Linked DNA regions of Homo sapiens: region 1 is linked to region 2. Evidence: fine-mapped QTL for protein levels in blood plasma. A gene starts in region 2. The other region holds a variant in brackets. All regions are shown on one strand. Distances are from middle to middle. Region 1 overlaps IL1RAP (interleukin 1 receptor accessory protein). Region 2 holds the start of IL1RAP (interleukin 1 receptor accessory protein).

Region 1 (8,000 bases), 110 kb before region 2:
AATACACAGGTGTGACCAAACAGTGATTTTATATCAGCTTTCAGCACAGATCATCTAGTCTAGAGGATCCACCTGTCACTTCACATTCCTGACACTGTCCTTATTACACCATTTAGAGCAGGGGCTTCTGTAAAAGGGGAGCTACTCTGGTCGCTCTGGGAGGCAAACTTGTGCTTCACTCCTACATTACACCTTGCTTTGATTGTTCTGATCCTATTCATTTGACAATAAGTTATTAATTTATGTCACCTTCCATAATTATTCCCCAGGATACATCCCTCAGAAGATGATCCCCACAAAAAGCTCCATACTTAAGAAATCTGGAGTCAAATACATATGAAAACATCCTGCCACTATAATCCAACTTCCCGCAGATATTCCCATCAAATGTTCACATATTAAATACTTGAATGGGTCCTAACTAAAGTAACTTGATTGATTTTTTAAAATCCAGACATAAATGATACTTATTTGATGATAAAAGCCTTTGTCAAATAACACCTATGAAAATCTTAAGGAAATAATGAGTTCATATTTATTGAGCATTTCATATATAGGTATATATGCCAATAACTGTGCTGAGCACTTTAAAACAACCTTATAAGGTAGTGGTATTATTGTGTCTACTTTAAATATAAGGAAATTAAGGCTCAGAGAGATTTACTTTTCACAGAGTTAGGATGTGCAGAAACCAGAATTTCAACACAGGTGCTCTGATTCTAGAGTACAATAATGCATTGCAGGACAATACTGATTCTTAGTAGTGTTCCCGAGAACTCAATTTGGGAAACTGCCTTACATCATGTACTTCAGTCTTTCCTTTTCACACTGGCTTCTGAGGAGCAGAAGCAATGAATTACCCTGAACTGATTCACTAGTACTTCATACGCAGCATATACATTTCAGGCCTTTGCTATTTAGTTTTAAAGTTGTAATGAAAGTTTGAGGTGAATCCTGTTTTTCATCAGCTTTAAAAAAGCATTAAGTCTCTGTAAAATGTAACAATTATGTGCTATGTTATTCACTTTTGAAGAAATATTACACACTCTATAGACTAGGAGCCAGGAGGATTCTGAATGACCTGATTTCATGATTTCATGTGTGATAACTCATCATTACTTTTCTCAAGACCATTGAAAACATCCTTGAAGGGATTTTCTGGGATTCTGTGTTAGGTGAGAGACACAAAGAAAGTTTTAGACACAGTCTGATTTAGGAGCAGCACTTCTGACAAGAAGGCTTTATAATTTCCATTTATTGTAGAATAATATAGTACTATCAACATAGAAATCATGTTTATACCATTTAAAATCATAATTTAAATGATTTTCATTTTAGCAATTGTGGCTGCTGGTATATTATAAACCTGCTTAAATATTGATACATAGTGTTTAAAATAATATTATAATTATGCATTTTTGGAAAATAAACATTCAATACCTTAATTAGTTGCATACAATTGGATGGCTGCTATTAATAATGTTTTACAACTACAGATAATGCTTCTAATAATATTAAAAGGTATATAATTCCCTTTCTGTTATTTGTTCAGGAAAAATTCCGAAAGTCTTAGGTCAGATGATGCAATCTTTTTTATGACTCTTGAAGTCTACCATGAATGATTTTTAAAAGGGTCTTAATAATTCACCAACAATATGTGGCTCTACCAGTTTTTTCTATCTTTGGTAGCTTTGAATATTTTCTTTGTTTTTAATTTTTCATAATTGTACAGACACAAAATTGTGTCTCACTGTACTCACGTCGATTTTTTTAGCTACATTTGGGCATTACGGTACTAACAATATCAGAAACAATATTTTGAGTATCTTACATAGATGAAAACTTTCATATTTTTCATTTAAGTTTGATTCATTACTATGGGTTAGATGCCGTCGGGCTAGGTGCTGGAGCTCTCTTGTTCTCAATCTCTCCTTTTGTCCTTATTCACCACAATGTTAATTTGGAGCTGAGAGATTCATCACTGACCGCATCTATTACCTTTCTGCTTCACCTTGGCTGCTTTGGCAACTTCGCCTTTGGCACTTCTAGCATGACAGACATAGCTGCGCTTGAGATCCTCAGAGGTAACTTTCTTGATGCTCAAAATCTGAGTTCTTGTTTCATCTTCTGTTCTACTATGACTTATACTAGAAATAGAGAGAAGAAAATCAAAGCATTTGAGAGTGACTCAAGAGCTATGGACTGTGTAGGAATCAGACAAGTAAGCAACCACAGACCCCCACTACAGGTGAGGGCGAGGAAGGTTGATAAGCTGAGCCACCTATAATGCAGTGATTACAAAGTATTAATGGTAAGATTCTAACACTATACTATACCATCTACGCTACACACTATCCCATTGTCTAGACCAAATCCCAATACTGGCTTCTTTTTATAGATCTCTCTTCAAAACAAAATGTCTCTTTTGCTTAAACTTCTGAGCCAGGATGCTGTATCAGTTTAGAGAGAAGCTTCTGGGGCCAGGTCCTTTTGGGTTTTTATCCAGGATTTGTCAATTCCTGGCTATATACTTTGGGTGAGATAACTAATCTTTCCAGGTCTCAGGTTCCTCTTTTGGAAAAGAGGGAAGTCATAATGCCCACACAGTGCATTACATGCATTAATTTATTCAGGAATTCTGAGGACTGAATATGCTAAGGCATGAATATTAGAATAATGCTTAATAAATATTCATGTAGGTATTACTGTTATCCCATAGGAATAGCTGATGCATTTCAGTGATTCCCAAAGCATGGATTCTGAACACAGCTAGAATACTGTGGTCAGAAATCTGAAATCTCATGGTTAAATCCTAACATATAAAAAGAGAAAGCTGTTATGAACACGTAAACTTTGTAAAAATAAATATATCCAACTCTCAGTGAATCAGAGATCAAGTGTTTTGGGTCCAAGATCAGAATTTAAAATCCCTTTGAACTCCTTTACTTATCGCAGAGAAAAATCTCTCTGCTACAGCTGACTGCCATCTAGGTTCTCTTTTTAACTAGGCTTACTGTCAGGTATGAGAATTTGGTTAAGGGCTCTGATTGGTTTTGCTTAAGCTTAA[C/T]GCCACTGCTATCCTATGAACACTGAGTACGTTTCAACAGCAGCAAGGTGGAACAACATGACTTTCCTTGTTATTTATTCATTATTATTATAAGGATGGGCTACAAAGTGTTAAAAATTCCTAAAAAAGATCAATAATTCTCCCTGTGAGCCTCCAGCTACATTACTTTGTCATATAGCTGACCAGCTGCAAATTTTTAATTGGTGCAGTGAGCCAACTGCTGTTCGGTAATGGTATGCTTCATTTGCAGTGGAACCTTCTGTCTTCAAGGACGCACACTTTCCACTTTGCCAACGCTTTAAAAAATCAGGTTTATTTAGGAATAAAATGTTATTTTATTTTAAAAGTGAGTTATATTACTACCCATCTACCTTTAAAATAAAATTTAAATTACACAAACGTATTTAGTTAATATTAAAAATTACTAATTATAAATGTAACTATAGGTTATATGAGATAAGAAAGAGGAGGAGAGAGAAAATGCATGCTCACTGCAATGCAAAAAAAAACAAAACACAATTACCTAAGGCACAAATACATAGGGCCAGACACTAGGATTGAGAAAAGGAAAAAACACAACTACACTGTAGGTTTCCACGTACCCACAACCCTTGATTGTGACCTTTTTATTCATGTAAGATATGTATTCTCTCTACTTCCATGTGGGTATCATAAATGTGTGAATCTTGCTGGGCTTAAGACAATAGGGTGCATGTCCTCTGGACAATCTGATGAAGATGCTCAGCCTCAGAACATTCTAATTCAGCTCTCCACTGGTCATCAGGCAGCATCTATTCCTTGCATTGCTAGCCCAGTAACCCTGGTTTGGGATGCAATCACCAAAGATTTGAAAATCTTGCCGATTTTTGTTAGTGATAGGGAAAAATGAGAATTTTTATTTTCATTGACTAGAACACACATCAGAGATCATTAAGTTGAGAAACAAAGGTTAATCACTCCCTTGCTGGCCCCCATGATACCTTTCGTTAATGGTGACATCAATAGTGATGTCATCAGGTTTTTTTCCATCAATGGTCCACCAAACCTCATTGCGAGAATCCATCAGAAAACTAAAATAGACCGTACAGGGAATGAGTAGCTCCTCTCCTGAAAAAAAAAACCAAAAAAACAAAAAAAACAAAAAACAAAACAAAACAAAACAAAACAAAACAAAAAACAAAGACAAAGTTAGCCCATTAGTGTTTATCCTTCACATGGCTATATTGGTTCTACTCTCTGGCTAATCAGAAGCTACGAGTTATGTGTACCTGAAACCCTGCTTATGAGTAATTCTCTAGTCGACTCCCATAAGGTAATGCACCATACTTCATTCCAAAACAAACAAGCGAAACCAAATAAAGAAGGCCATCAACTTTGTATAAAATTACCAGAGTGACCATTTTTAATGTAATCTAAATAAATTCTAAAATGATGATATTTGTTTAAAAAGTCTCTGACAAGGCTAGGCATAGTGGCTCACACCTGTAATCCCAGCACTTTGGGAGGCCGAGGCAGGTGGATCACTTGAGGTGAGGAGTTCAAGACCAGCCTGGCCAACATGGTGAAACCCCGTCTCTACTAAAAATACAAAAATTAGCCGGGCATGGTGGCACCGCCTGTAATCCCAGCTACTTGGGGGGCTGAGGTAGGAGAATTGCTTGAACTCAGGAGGTGGAGGTTGCAGTGAGCCAAGACTGTGCCACTGCACTCCAGCCTGGGCAACAGAGTGAGACTCCATCTCCAAAAAAAAAAAAAAAAAAAAAAAGGTCTCTGACAATATTCTTTTTAGCCCTAGACCTCCAGAGACTGCTCTTCTCCTTTGTTATTTTCCTCAAGAAGGGTGACTGAGGACAGGTTCTCCATATCTTCAGTCCTTGGCCAGGAAAGATGGGGAAATACCATCACAGAGAGATCTGGCTGAGGAGGCCCACCTTGAAATGCTCCACCTATCAGGGTGCATTCAATAAATTTTAAGATAACTTAAAAATAGAAAACTCTATGCTATCCCTCTGAGATGGAACATGAGGTTAGGGAGATCCCTAGGCAGAAAACAGTAGTAACAGCAGCAGTAGCAACATACTTACTAAGAACTTTGTACAAGTTATTATGCTAAATATTTATATTTATTAATGGTCTTATTTAATCTTACAAAAGCACCATAAGGTATTTTTTAAAATCTATGTTTCCCAAATGTAAAAGGTGAAGCTTAAGGATGCTAAATGATATTCCTAAGTTAAATCAGTAATAAGTGAAGGGCCAGGATTTGACCTAGACTGACCTTCCATCCCAGTTTGCCCAGAACAGTTCTGTTTTATGCCTGCTTTCCTGGTTACCTATATTAATAGGTAGTGGCTATGTTTACTCACAGAAAGTGTCCTGGTTTAGATGATAAATTATATCGTCACCCTAATTTGAACTTAGGCTTACCTGACTGCGTGGCCATACTCTATCTACCCTCCCATTGCAACGTCCTTAAGTCTTTTCCCTCCAGTTTTCCCTATCTGTATGTCACTAAGAAAGATAAAGGGAACACGGATTCAACAATCCTTCTGTCAGCATAGTTTGACAGGTAGACAAATATATTTATGTTATTAATAAGGGTTTACCCTGACAGCAGGAAGAGTATTCATATGACTATATAAAGCCATACCTAATTCTAGGAAATTCAGCCTCTTACCATGTTCTCTGTGTTTCACAAAGCAAGTCATATTTTCAAACTTATCTTGATTTTTTTTGGCATTGTTCTCCATCTATGTTGATCACTATTATCTTTTTTAGAGCAAAATCAAATTTCTCTGTCAACATACATAACATACAAGATCAATTGTATCTTTATTATTGTTTGTTGCTATAAATTTATTCATACCAGGAAAAATGTCATATTTAAAATTCTCAAAATAGTTTTGGCACAGGTCAAATCTCATTTTGTTAAGTCCCTGAACTCTTTTAATTGATTTATTTTTTTCATCAGCCTCTTCCCCAGTCACCCTAGCCCCCTCGCTCCAGAATGCTTTGCTGCCCGCCCTGATGCCACAGCCACTTTTACTCCTACTCATGTTAATTCTAGATAAACATTTAATGTTACAGCCTTTCTAGCCAATTGTGCTCTGCAGAAACCATGCAGCTTTTCTGCATGAAGACTTAGCATCCCTACCCCAAAGAGGACTCCATACAATTTTTCTGATGCTTATTGGCAAGAGGAACTAAATAGAAATAATAAGAAGGATGCACAAAATGCACCCTAAGATTGCCTATAATGGTCAGTGTTTTAAGGTCTATAAAGCTTTATGCCTCCGGTGCTCACCCAAACACTGGATGGCGAAGAGGTCCACATCTATGTTCCACATCCAGGTTAAACTTATTGGCAAACCAATGGTGCTTGTGCACAACCCAGTTCAAGTCGCCAGCTGCAAAAATGCACCGCGAGCACACGAGGACCCCGCTGCAGTGTGGGTAGGGAGCACCCTCGGAAACATCACCCTCAAGTTACTGCCACTTGACCCGCCTGGCAACTGCGTGCATGTCCGACAAGTTGTACTTATGGCTTAAGGAAAGTGAGCTGAAGACTTCAGGGACCCTTTAGATAGGGCCCAGAGATACGCATCAGGGCTGTATGTGTCTTGCACCCACTCCATAAACTTTTTAATTTTTTTCATTCTCTGATACATATCCTACATACTCCCCACTGACCACAAAACAGGCACTGCCTGAAACAAGAGGTGTGTCAAGTGGAGGATGCATTTTGACAGTTCCTGTGTTTGTCAGCTTTCCATGAACAACTACATACCTCTTTTTCCACCTTTTTTTTTTATTGAATGGCATCCTCTCCGTTGCTTTCACCCATTAACAACTGACTATTATCTTTAGCACATTTTAAACAGATGCTCTTTTATACCTCTGTGAAAGCTGTCAGAGTCAAAATGGAGTCACTCGTGTCACACTCCAAAGAAAAACAGTTGGGAGGTCATATAAAAAGGGCCCTCACACACACATGCCTATTATAAAAACTAGTACAAAGACTCTGAGCACCACTATCTTGCACAAAGGCCAGCGCGATTCTTAAACAAATAATATTTCTGTGAGGAGGTCTGACCACCAAATGCCAGTCAAGCCTGGACGGATGTTACCCTGTTATTGGTTCTTATAACCAAGGATAATTATTTCAGAACAACTTTATGTAATCTTCCTCACTTTGCCTTTCAAAACTGTTATGTTCCTATGCTTTCTGGGTATGGCTATGGTTCCCGCATGGGATGCCATAGCACTCATATTCCTGGATTGCTATCTGCAATTCATTCCTGAATAAATCCTTTTCTTTTTGGAGAGCTATTGTCTTTGTTGTTATTTAGGTTAACACCTCTCACTGGGTTTGGACTGGATGTATTGTAAGTGATACAACATAGAAAATGTTAAAATTTTCTATAGTTTCCTGTTCACTTAACTGTGGGAGGCTTTGAGTCAAAAGAGTAACATGTTATCCCGTATTTGGTCAGTTATCAATGATTTTTGGCTATAATGAAAAATTATGGAAACTAAAAGAAGAACCGAAGAGCCACAGTAAGCATTCAATAGTGTTCTGCGTCAATGTCTACTAGTTTTATCAGTTGTTAGCTATTATATTCACAGTCTTGCCTTCAAGATCCACCACTGACCTTTCATAATGGAGCAGGAGCTTGAAGGATGTCTAAATCTTGTGCCCATGTTGCAGCCTTGGCAAACCAAAGCCCTGTGCAAGCTAAAGTTTGCATCAAACAGAAATCACTCATCAGCAGAGGAAGACGGCTAGCAGAGGGAGAAGGGAGCAGATACCGAGAGTGAAGCAAAAAATTCTAGAGTTGCCCATGGGATCAGGGAAGTAACTGATCTCCACAGCTGCTTTGGTTTCTGACATTTCAGTTTCAATTCATGTGTTTCTCTACAACAGTCGTCTATT
Region 2 (9,310 bases):
TTTCTACGTCCTCTGATTTCCTCAAGCCACATTCTGCTTTCCTAACCGTGCCAGGTAAGATGATGCTAACTGCTTACCTATAGGAGCAAACATATGCTCCAAAATGCCAAAAGCAAGGAGCAAAATGTTCCTTCTACATCTGCGTTTGCAAGCCTGTGTGCTTGCTACAAAGAAGAGAAATCTAATGGCCTATGAGAAGTCTCAGCAGATGAACAGCCCCACTGCCTGGGCCAGAAACAGATCCCTTCATCTTCCAACATGAGCCTCCAGCCATCACTTTCCACAAGGAGGAGTGAAACTCCAGACAAGTAATCAGCACCACCAGGAAGCAGTGGTCTCTTTCTGCAAATGCCACCTTTGCACATTATTCTGTCTACTCTACTCAGTACCCACAAAATTGTCAAAAAAAAAAGTTGAATAATGCCATGGACACTCATAACATTTGTTGTTCAATCTTCTTCCCAGCCTTTGAACTAGCATGAGGATGGCAGAGGGAAGAAACCACTCACAACAGGAAGAAAAGAGTGATATAATTCTGTACTTTATGTCTTCTTAGTTAGTACCCTTTCTCTTAGGAATCAAAGGTGTATTACATCCAACACAGGAGAGTAGGAAGGTTGTCTTAGAGACCATTGCTTTAAATACCCTCTTATGACAGTTGGCTCCACTAAACTCTACAGAACTGTGCTTAAGGATTGTTCTCTTTGCAAGAAAATACCTGCTTTTCAACAAAAAGGATATCCTGAAATAACCAGACAAATAAGGTCAACTTTATAACTGAAGTAAATTGTTAAATATCTCATTGGCGAGGAAACAGAGTGTGATGGGAAATGCCCTAAACTAGACATGAAAAGGTGTGAACTGTATTCCCAGAGTTGAAACATACTAACACATGACCTCTAGCAACTTTTCATTTCTCTGAGTCTCATTCCAGTTATGTTCTAAATAAATTGAGACTAGCTAAGAAGAGATATCATTTAATGAGCACCTATTCACTACATGTACTTGACATTATTCTATTGAATTTATTCGTTATACAGATTTTTAAAGTAAGCATTTTTTTTTTCCATTTTAGAACTGGATAAAACAGAAACTTCAAATGATTAAATAAACTGCTCAATATCACCCAACTACTCAGGCATGAGAGCTGGAATTTGAAATCAAGTAGGTCTGACCACAAAACCTGGGCTCCTTCCTCTATTAATATTCTTGCCATGTCCTCCCAGGGCTATTGTGAGTAACAAGGAGTATCATATATACAGAATGCACTTTGGAAATTTTAAAGTTCTATACATATATATGGTTTTGGTAACAAGTAATAATCTGTATGAAGATATGGGTATAATTGACCAACCTTTCTTTGAAGAATCAGAACCAAAGGAATTAGCTTTTAATCTCCCTTCCATCCTCATGATCTGACCTTATTTTGAACATTTTCCTTTTCCCCCACAAGGCCCCTGTCTCTCAGGCACACATTCAGTCATATCCCAGCCAGCTCACCACAATGCATGTACATGGAACAAGCTGATAGAAGCAGGTGATCCCATCCTTTACTAATGCTTGGTGCGGGAGGTACTTAAGTGGGCACCACTGGGCTCTTATCTTCCATCAAGATGTATCACACTCTGTTCTCAAGCACTTACCAATACTGCATACAAATGCTATGGCCTGTGAAGGAGGCAGCCAACTACAAATGCTGGACACTCAATTTAAGGACGCATGGCAAAGCCAGTAGATAGTAGTAAATTATTGCATGAAGTTCATCAGAATAAAATCAATTGTCATGAGAAGGGTTAAGGGTGTGGGAGGGAATCCATTTAACTTTAAAATACCAATAATACAGGAAGACTAGTGTGGGCATGTGAATGTCTGTGTGTTCGTGTTTAAATAAGGCAAGTTTGTGTCCAGAAAGGTTTGCATTTAGCAGCATCTCTGTACAATCCAAAAGAAATATATGAGAATTTTGTTTGTTTTCTGATACTAGATGAAAAATGTAAGGTTGCTCGACTGACCTAAGAGAGCAAGGATAGAAGGCTTAGAATAATCTGTAACACAGCTGCAACTTCCAACTTTGTCTTCTTGTCTTTCTGCCTCTCACCCATTTCAAGACCCTCTTTGTCAATAAAGGATGTCTCAGATCAGGGCAGTTCACAGGCCTGAGGTTTGACCTAAAAACTAGTAGGAAATTCATATCACCGAGAAACATCAATTTTACATTTCGAGCTAAGCATCCATGATCCACATCACATATGGACAACATTCAGAAAATTCTTATTATAAAAGAGTTGCTCAAATTCAAAAGAAGAAAGACACCACATTTACAGATTTTTTTAAAATGCCTCTGTAAGATGGTATGAAATCACCTTTCTGAAAACCCACTGTCTGCAAGGTTACTATGTAACAATATTTACAATAGTTGCCATTGGTTTTGAACCAACCAGATGCCAGGCCAGGCACTGTGCTAAACATGCTACTTGAATGATCCCATTTCATCCTTCCAACTACCCAAAGGGCTCATTGTGACCATTATAAATCTCCATTTTTTGGCTGGAAAAAAAAAAAAGGAAGAAAGAAAGAAAAGAAAAACCCAGTATCGGAAAGGTGAGATAACTTGCCCAAGTTCACACTGCTAATACATGGAAGAGCTGGAGTCAAAACTCAAGTCCTCTTTCTCATCCAGTAGCTAAACCAGGGATCTGTACAGCAGAGCAGCAGAATGCTTCGCGTGGCGCCCTGGTTCACAATTTCACAACCAGAAGGTGGAGGGAAGACAGGCTGTGGGCTAGCTCTTAAAGGAAACAGCCGAAGTTTGCTTTTATGTTTGTGATTTTCTCTTTAACTCAGCTTCCTTGCTCCCTCTCAGTATTTAGAAGAGGGAAGGGGCTCTATGGTTCCATGAAGTCAGCTCTTCCCAAGTGAGGGGCACCCTGTGCCCCACAGGGCCACTAGCTCCGCTTCCTCCGGGGCTGGGAAGAAACAGTACCATAGGAGGTCACTGGCGCCCGGGCCTCGCTCCTCTCTCCCCGCGCTCCTCCAGAAGCTGGTCCGACACCCTCTGAAGGGGCATCTTTCTGAGAAAGCAGGTCAGGGGAAGAGGGAGTGAGGCTGCAAGCAGCATTTTCCCAGGCTGTCACAGCTCTGCGCTGAGAGCGACGTGATACCGAGTGGGCGTGCTGGGACACACCGCTTCCTTCTGTCCTCGGCGCTTCCAGCAGCGGTCTGGAGAAACCAAGGAGGAGATGGGGGCGGGGGGTGGTAGCGGGGAGGGGGCGGTGAGGAGGAAAACAAGGGTAGACCCCTCAAAGGGCTGAGGATGGGGGCGGCAACGAGCAGACGTCCCACAACCGCGTTACTTAAATCCCTGCAAAGCAAAGATGGGTCTCTGAACGTTTGGGTTCGAATCCGGGCTCCAGTCCTAACTAGCAGTATGACCTATCCCAGCCGCTGCCTCGTTCTGTGCCTCAGTTTCCTCTTCTGTAAAGTAGGAGGGTTTAACGATAGGATCTCTAAGAATCCGTCTACCCTGAGATTCTGCGGCTTGGTGACTTCTGAGCCCTCACGGCGGCGCGAGACTCACCTTTCTTGGGAAGCTGAGAGGGCGCAGCAAAAGCAGCCGGGATGGGTGCAGTGTCGCCGGGCACTGCTTCCTTCCGCGCCTCTGGCCAAAGCGGACCCCGGAGACCTGGATCCCGGCAGTCTTCCCCAGTGAGCCTCTTACTTTCCGCCGCACTTTCTTTTCCCCCTTTGGGGCTCCTCCCCCGGAGCGGCGCGATTGGCCACGGCCTCACGGCTCAGGCTCCACCCGCCGCCTTGGCTCGCGATCCACCGGCGCTCTGGGCTTCCAGGAGCTGCGGCCGCGGGGCGGCGTCCTGGACGGTCCCGCCCGCCGCCAGGAGGCGCGGCGCCGGGCCCGCCTGCGGACGGATGCAAGGCTGCGCTCGGCCCCTTCGGCTCCCTGCCACCGCCTGTGCGGGCTTGAGCGCGCGGGGAAAGGAGAGGGTTAGTCCTGCAGCGCAGCTCGGCACGCTGCCAGGCGCTGTGGGAAGCTACGCCCCTCACTACACACCGAGGCGCACACATGCGCTCATTGCAAGATCGTGCTCTCGCAGTTGAGATCGGTGCCACCCTGCCCTTTCTTCCTGTCTCGACGTATTTAGCAATCATGCTGCAAGGCCTTGAATCAATTCAGACTGCACGATTTTCGCAACCACCCTGTGCCGGCACAGAGCGCGGCAGGATGTAGATGCGATCTCCGCAGTCCTGAGCTCTTGCTGTCTTGAACTGACATTCATATGAGCAAGCAACAGGACATGACAGCAAGACTAAATCTGTATTGTCCACTGGTAATATACCCATTGCCTAGCACAGTGCCTGGCACAAAGTAGGCACTCAATACATGTATGGGGAACGAATAAAAGAACTAATAGGTTACATAGAAGGAAATAATCTCAAAACAAATATTTGCCTTCATTCATTTCCATTTCCCCAAGTTTTTGCAAGAGCCTTCCTTCAGCTGCCCTCTGCCACTGTAGATGGTAGTCTGTAATATATCCCGGGAAGCGTTATAAAGGCTTTCATTAAGTCATCTCTCTTGTTCAGGCACCTTCTGCTGTGTTCCTACTGCTAGTGCCTCATGATTTTTCCTGACTGGCAAGGCCCTTCATGACCTGTCCCCATTTCTGAAACCCCCTAACCAAAGCCACCTACCAGACTGACGAGTCTTCGCACATCTTCTTGCTCATCACATCTTCTTTTCTCCTCCTCCTACCTAACTGAATCCTACTAATTTATTTTCAAGAATCAAGATTCAGAGAAAGCATTTAAGGAAAAGGAGAAAAAAGATGTGAAATAAGAAAAGGGCCCAGGTGAGTGGGAAGGAAATGAAACCAGCAGGTGCCCGTGCTGCTAAAGGTGCACAGCAGTACGAAACTCAGAGGCTGCCCCTGCCCTGGCGGAGCTTCAGTTCCTAAGGTGAAATATCAGTGTAATTGGAGCCATAGAAATGTTCATGATACTTTACTTCTTGACATCACTTATGAAAATTAATTGCTCAAAATTTTTATTTATCTCAGGATACCTGGGACCCAGCACCTGCTCACAACATTGTCACTGAACCAAAGAGAAAATAATCCAAAAGAATTTAAAATGTTACCTGTATGAAGCAACAATAAAACATTTTCTGATTTATTATTCATTCCTTAAATATATTCTGGGCACAGACTTTTATATATATATAGTACACTGAAGCATTTACACAGTGCTTACAAAATAAAAAGGTGCAATCATAAGGACTTTGTGTATATTAATTCAGGTAACCCTCAATACAACCTGGAGGGTGCTATTATTATCTCCAGTTCATAAAGGAGATAAAGGGAATTTAAATAACTTGACCAAGGCTACAGGCCTACAAGTGGAGAATACAAAATGAGACTAGAGACACTCGACGTTCATGCTCTCAGCCGCTACTCAGTCTCATGTACTACCTAGAAGCCAAACAGATGCTAGTAATTCAGAATTGAACCAGATGTATATTCCCGGACATTGAAGGGCTACTCATAGCTTAAGGAAGATAACATTAAGATGAATAATCATATAGACAAATATTCATAGTATATTGTAGTTTGAACACAATATAAATGGTTGGAAATGAAAATGATTAGTTAACCAACGCTGTCTACGCACAGAATAAAATATTTGCATCATAACTATCATATTATGGAAATATGTCTACAAAGAAAAAGGCTTACAAAATAAGGTTGAGTAAAAGTTGTGGAGAGATGAACACCAATTGAAAGGAATGTGAAAAAATGTTGATATGTTAGGATTACAGAAATAGAAACATCTCTTTTTCCTTTTACATTTAAGTGAAATAAACCAAGCACAGAAAGACAAATTTTGCAAATTCTCACTCACACGTGGGAGCTAAAAATTAAACAAAGGAACTGAGATATGAGAGTAGAATGATGGTTACCAGAGGCTGGGAAGAGTAGCAGAGGCAAGGGAGTTGTGGGGAAGGGAGGATGGTTAACGGTTGCAAAAATATAATTAGCTGGAATGTATAAGACCCAGCACTTGATAGCACAACAGAGTGACTACAGTCAACAATAATTAATTATGCATTTTAAAATAAGTAAGAGTGAAATTGGAATGTTCCTCAAAGAAGTGACAAATGGTCAAGGTGATGACACCCTGTTGTCATTACCCTGATGTGATTATTACACATTGTATGCATGTATCAAAACATCACATGTCACCCATACATATATACACCTATTATGTACCCGTAATAATTAAAAATGAAAAAATGTTATGCTAACAATTGAGAAAAATATTTTAAAGCTATACCCATTAAATATCCATCACATACTAAACATTTGATGAATAATAGTTGCCTAAATGAATAAATGAAGCTACAAATTCATTGATGTCAGTGACTAATACTGCTGGATGTATAGAAGATGCACAATAAAATATTTTGCAATTGATTGATGTATTTGGAAAGGTATTATTATTCTCTTCTTCTCCCAGCTTTTACCCTCCACCTTTTTTTTAGGTTATCTTTAATTATCTTGCTGTAGCTGTAAGACGCATCAGGAGTTTGCTAGTCTCTTGAACCCAATCCATTCAGACATTTATCTCTACCACTCCACAGTCAGCATCTGTAATGATCTTCACTTTGCCAAATGTGGTGATCAATTCTCTGTCTTCATTGTACATGTATCAGCAGCATTAGACACAGATAATCTGTTGCTCTTTCACACTCTCTCGTACTTGACTCTTTGTTTTTCATGTATTTCATCTGCTGTTCCTTATCAGATTCTTATTGAATCCTCTACCTCTTCATGATCTCTGAAGGTTCCAGTGTCCTAGAGCTCAATCCTTGAAGTGGTTATATTCTCTACCTAGGGGAACTCAGACAGACACATGGCCTTCTAAAATATCAATATGATAATAACTTGCAAATCTAAATCTAAAGCCCAAACCAGACTTTGTATACCATATTACCTCCTTCATATCTCCTTCTTGGATGTTTTAAATACATCTCAAACTTTACATGTTCAAATTCAAACTTTATTTCTGCCCCACACCAAACCAGAGCTTTGTAAGCAACACTGTCTTTTACCCAGTTGCTCAGGTCAAAAAGTTGGAGTTATCACTCTCTCTCATTGCCTGTACACATTATATCCACAAACCTTCTGCTTCCTCTACATTCAAAACACATCTCAAATCCAACCACGCTATTCCTCTTCTCCATCACAACCACCATGGTTCAAGTCATTGCCATCTCTCCCCTCACTGGTGTCCCTGCTTAAACTCTTACCCAAAGAGTCTATTGCCCTTACTTCAGAGACCCTTATAAATGAAAATAGAATAAATACAGGCTAGTGATTGAGGTCAAGGAATCTGAAGCCCGACTACCTGGGATCAAGTTTACATAATGTGGTCAAGTTACTTAATTTCTTTTTTTCACAGTTTTATTCTCTGAAAAATATGAATAACAATGACAATAATATACATTATAGTGCTGTTTTTAAATTAAATGAGATTATATAAGTAAAACACTTGGCATGGGGATTGGCATGTAGAAATGCAATATAAATATTCATTATTCTTTTACAAGAAATATGTCATTCTCTGCTTTCAAATAGTGATTTCTTATCATGATCAGATAAATTTCCATAGTCATTTATGGCCTAAAAGTCCTTGTGTGGCCCTACATGATCCAGCACTGAGTTGCTTCTTTCAATCTCCCATAGCATGCTCCTTGCTGTCGACCAAACACACTAACATGTTCCCATACTAGGGTGTTTGCACCTGCTGTTCCCCCTTGCTGGACCGCTGTTCCCCTGTTGCTTGTTCTCTCCTCTTACTCACATCTTCATTAATGTCCCTGCTCCACTATAACCTTCCCAGCAAAGCTTTTCCTGACAACCAAGTCAAATAATACATTACGTAACATTTTAATTAATTTACTTATTGAATGCTGTTTTCACTAGAATGCTAACTCCGGGAGGGTAATATAATGTTTCCCTGGCAAACAGACAATATTTTGCACGTAGTACTCATTGAATAAACATTTGTTGAGTTACAATTCAGTCCAAAACTCTCATGGTTAAACTTTGATACAAAGATATTAAGTGACTTATATATCGCCCTCTTCCTTTGATTTACATTTTTTTGGGAGATCAGAATCATTGGAAGACAAAAACTAAAACAACAAATTATATATATATATATGTGTGTGTGTGTGTGTGTGTCTATATATATACGTATATATGTTTAATATATATACATATATATACGTATATATATATACACGTATATATATGTGTATATATTTGGCTGGGTACAGAGTAAAGAAAGCACATTATAGAGACATTTTATTTTGAGCTTTTGGAAGGAAGGTGAAGGGCAGGAGCCAAGAGAAAAGAAAAAAAAAGTGAAAAAAGGAAAAAGTAATTATATCACCTTCCAAACCCTTTTACGTTTCCACCTTTTATACCCCTCAGCTCTTTTCTCCTCCATCCCCAGCTGACCCTTGTACCTGTTCTCTGGGTGTTCACATTTCCCCTCGCAGCACTTAGTTATGCCTGCCCCCACTTCCTCTGTGGTGCCCTGGGTTTCCAAGTCAGGTATCCCTCTTCCTTTTTATTGCATCTGTTTCTGACAAAAGCCTCTCTTCCTTCAGTTTGATTCGGCTAGGTGTAGGGAAATAAGCAGATTAAACAGTAATGATAAGGTGTTGATTACTAAGAGCTCAACTCTACCTTGTTGAAGAGATATGCTAATTTGTTCAAACACATATACCCAACTATTGAAATTCAAGTCGTTTGGAAGAGGAAATTGGAAATTTGACTGTGCAGTGGGAGGCTTCACTCATTTCTTTTCTTTTCCTTTTTTGTTTTTTTTTAGACTGAGTCTCGCTCTGTCGCCCAGGCTAGAGTGCAGTGGTGTGATCTTGGCTCACTGCAACCTGCGCTTCCCAGGTTCAAGTGATTCTCCTCCCTCAGCCTCCAGAGTACCTGGGACTACAGGTGCCCACCACCACTCCCAGCTAATTTTTCTATTTTTAGTAGAGATGAGGTTTCACCATGTTGGCCAGGCTGGTCTCGAATTCCTGACATCAGGTGATCCACCCACCTCGGCCTCTCAAAGTGCTGGGATTACAGGCGTGAGCCACCGCGCCTAGCCAGCTTCACTCATTTCTATCCTTCAGACTCACTACCTGGGTTACATGCAGTCCTGAAAGACAAGAGGGGAAAGGGGAACTTCTGGAACCCTTCCAATCTCTATTTATCTGCATAGGGTT

What was found. PIP is the posterior inclusion probability: the model's chance that the variant is causal. Protein levels are from the aptamer-based SomaScan assay of Sun 2018.
Region 1: its variant is fine-mapped to the plasma level of the IL1RAP protein (Sun 2018, PIP 0.95).

What each region holds. Positions count from the first base shown.
Region 1 is chr3:190,623,497-190,631,496 of GRCh38, reverse strand. It overlaps IL1RAP (interleukin 1 receptor accessory protein), which reads right to left. Exons shown (of 12, transcript NM_002182.4): 8 at 4,048-4,174; 9 at 1,999-2,147. It also overlaps the pseudogene GCNT1P3. Among named protein-coding and RNA genes, the nearest start is that of LINC02013, 72 kb to the left of the region's middle. The variant C/T (reference allele first, on the strand shown) is at 3,068.
Region 2 is chr3:190,508,487-190,517,796 of GRCh38, reverse strand. It overlaps IL1RAP (interleukin 1 receptor accessory protein), which reads right to left and starts at 3,712. Exons shown (of 12, transcript NM_002182.4): 1 at 3,578-3,712. RefSeq lists enhancers at 2,522-3,021, 3,022-3,523, 4,276-4,365 and a silencer at 3,776-4,125.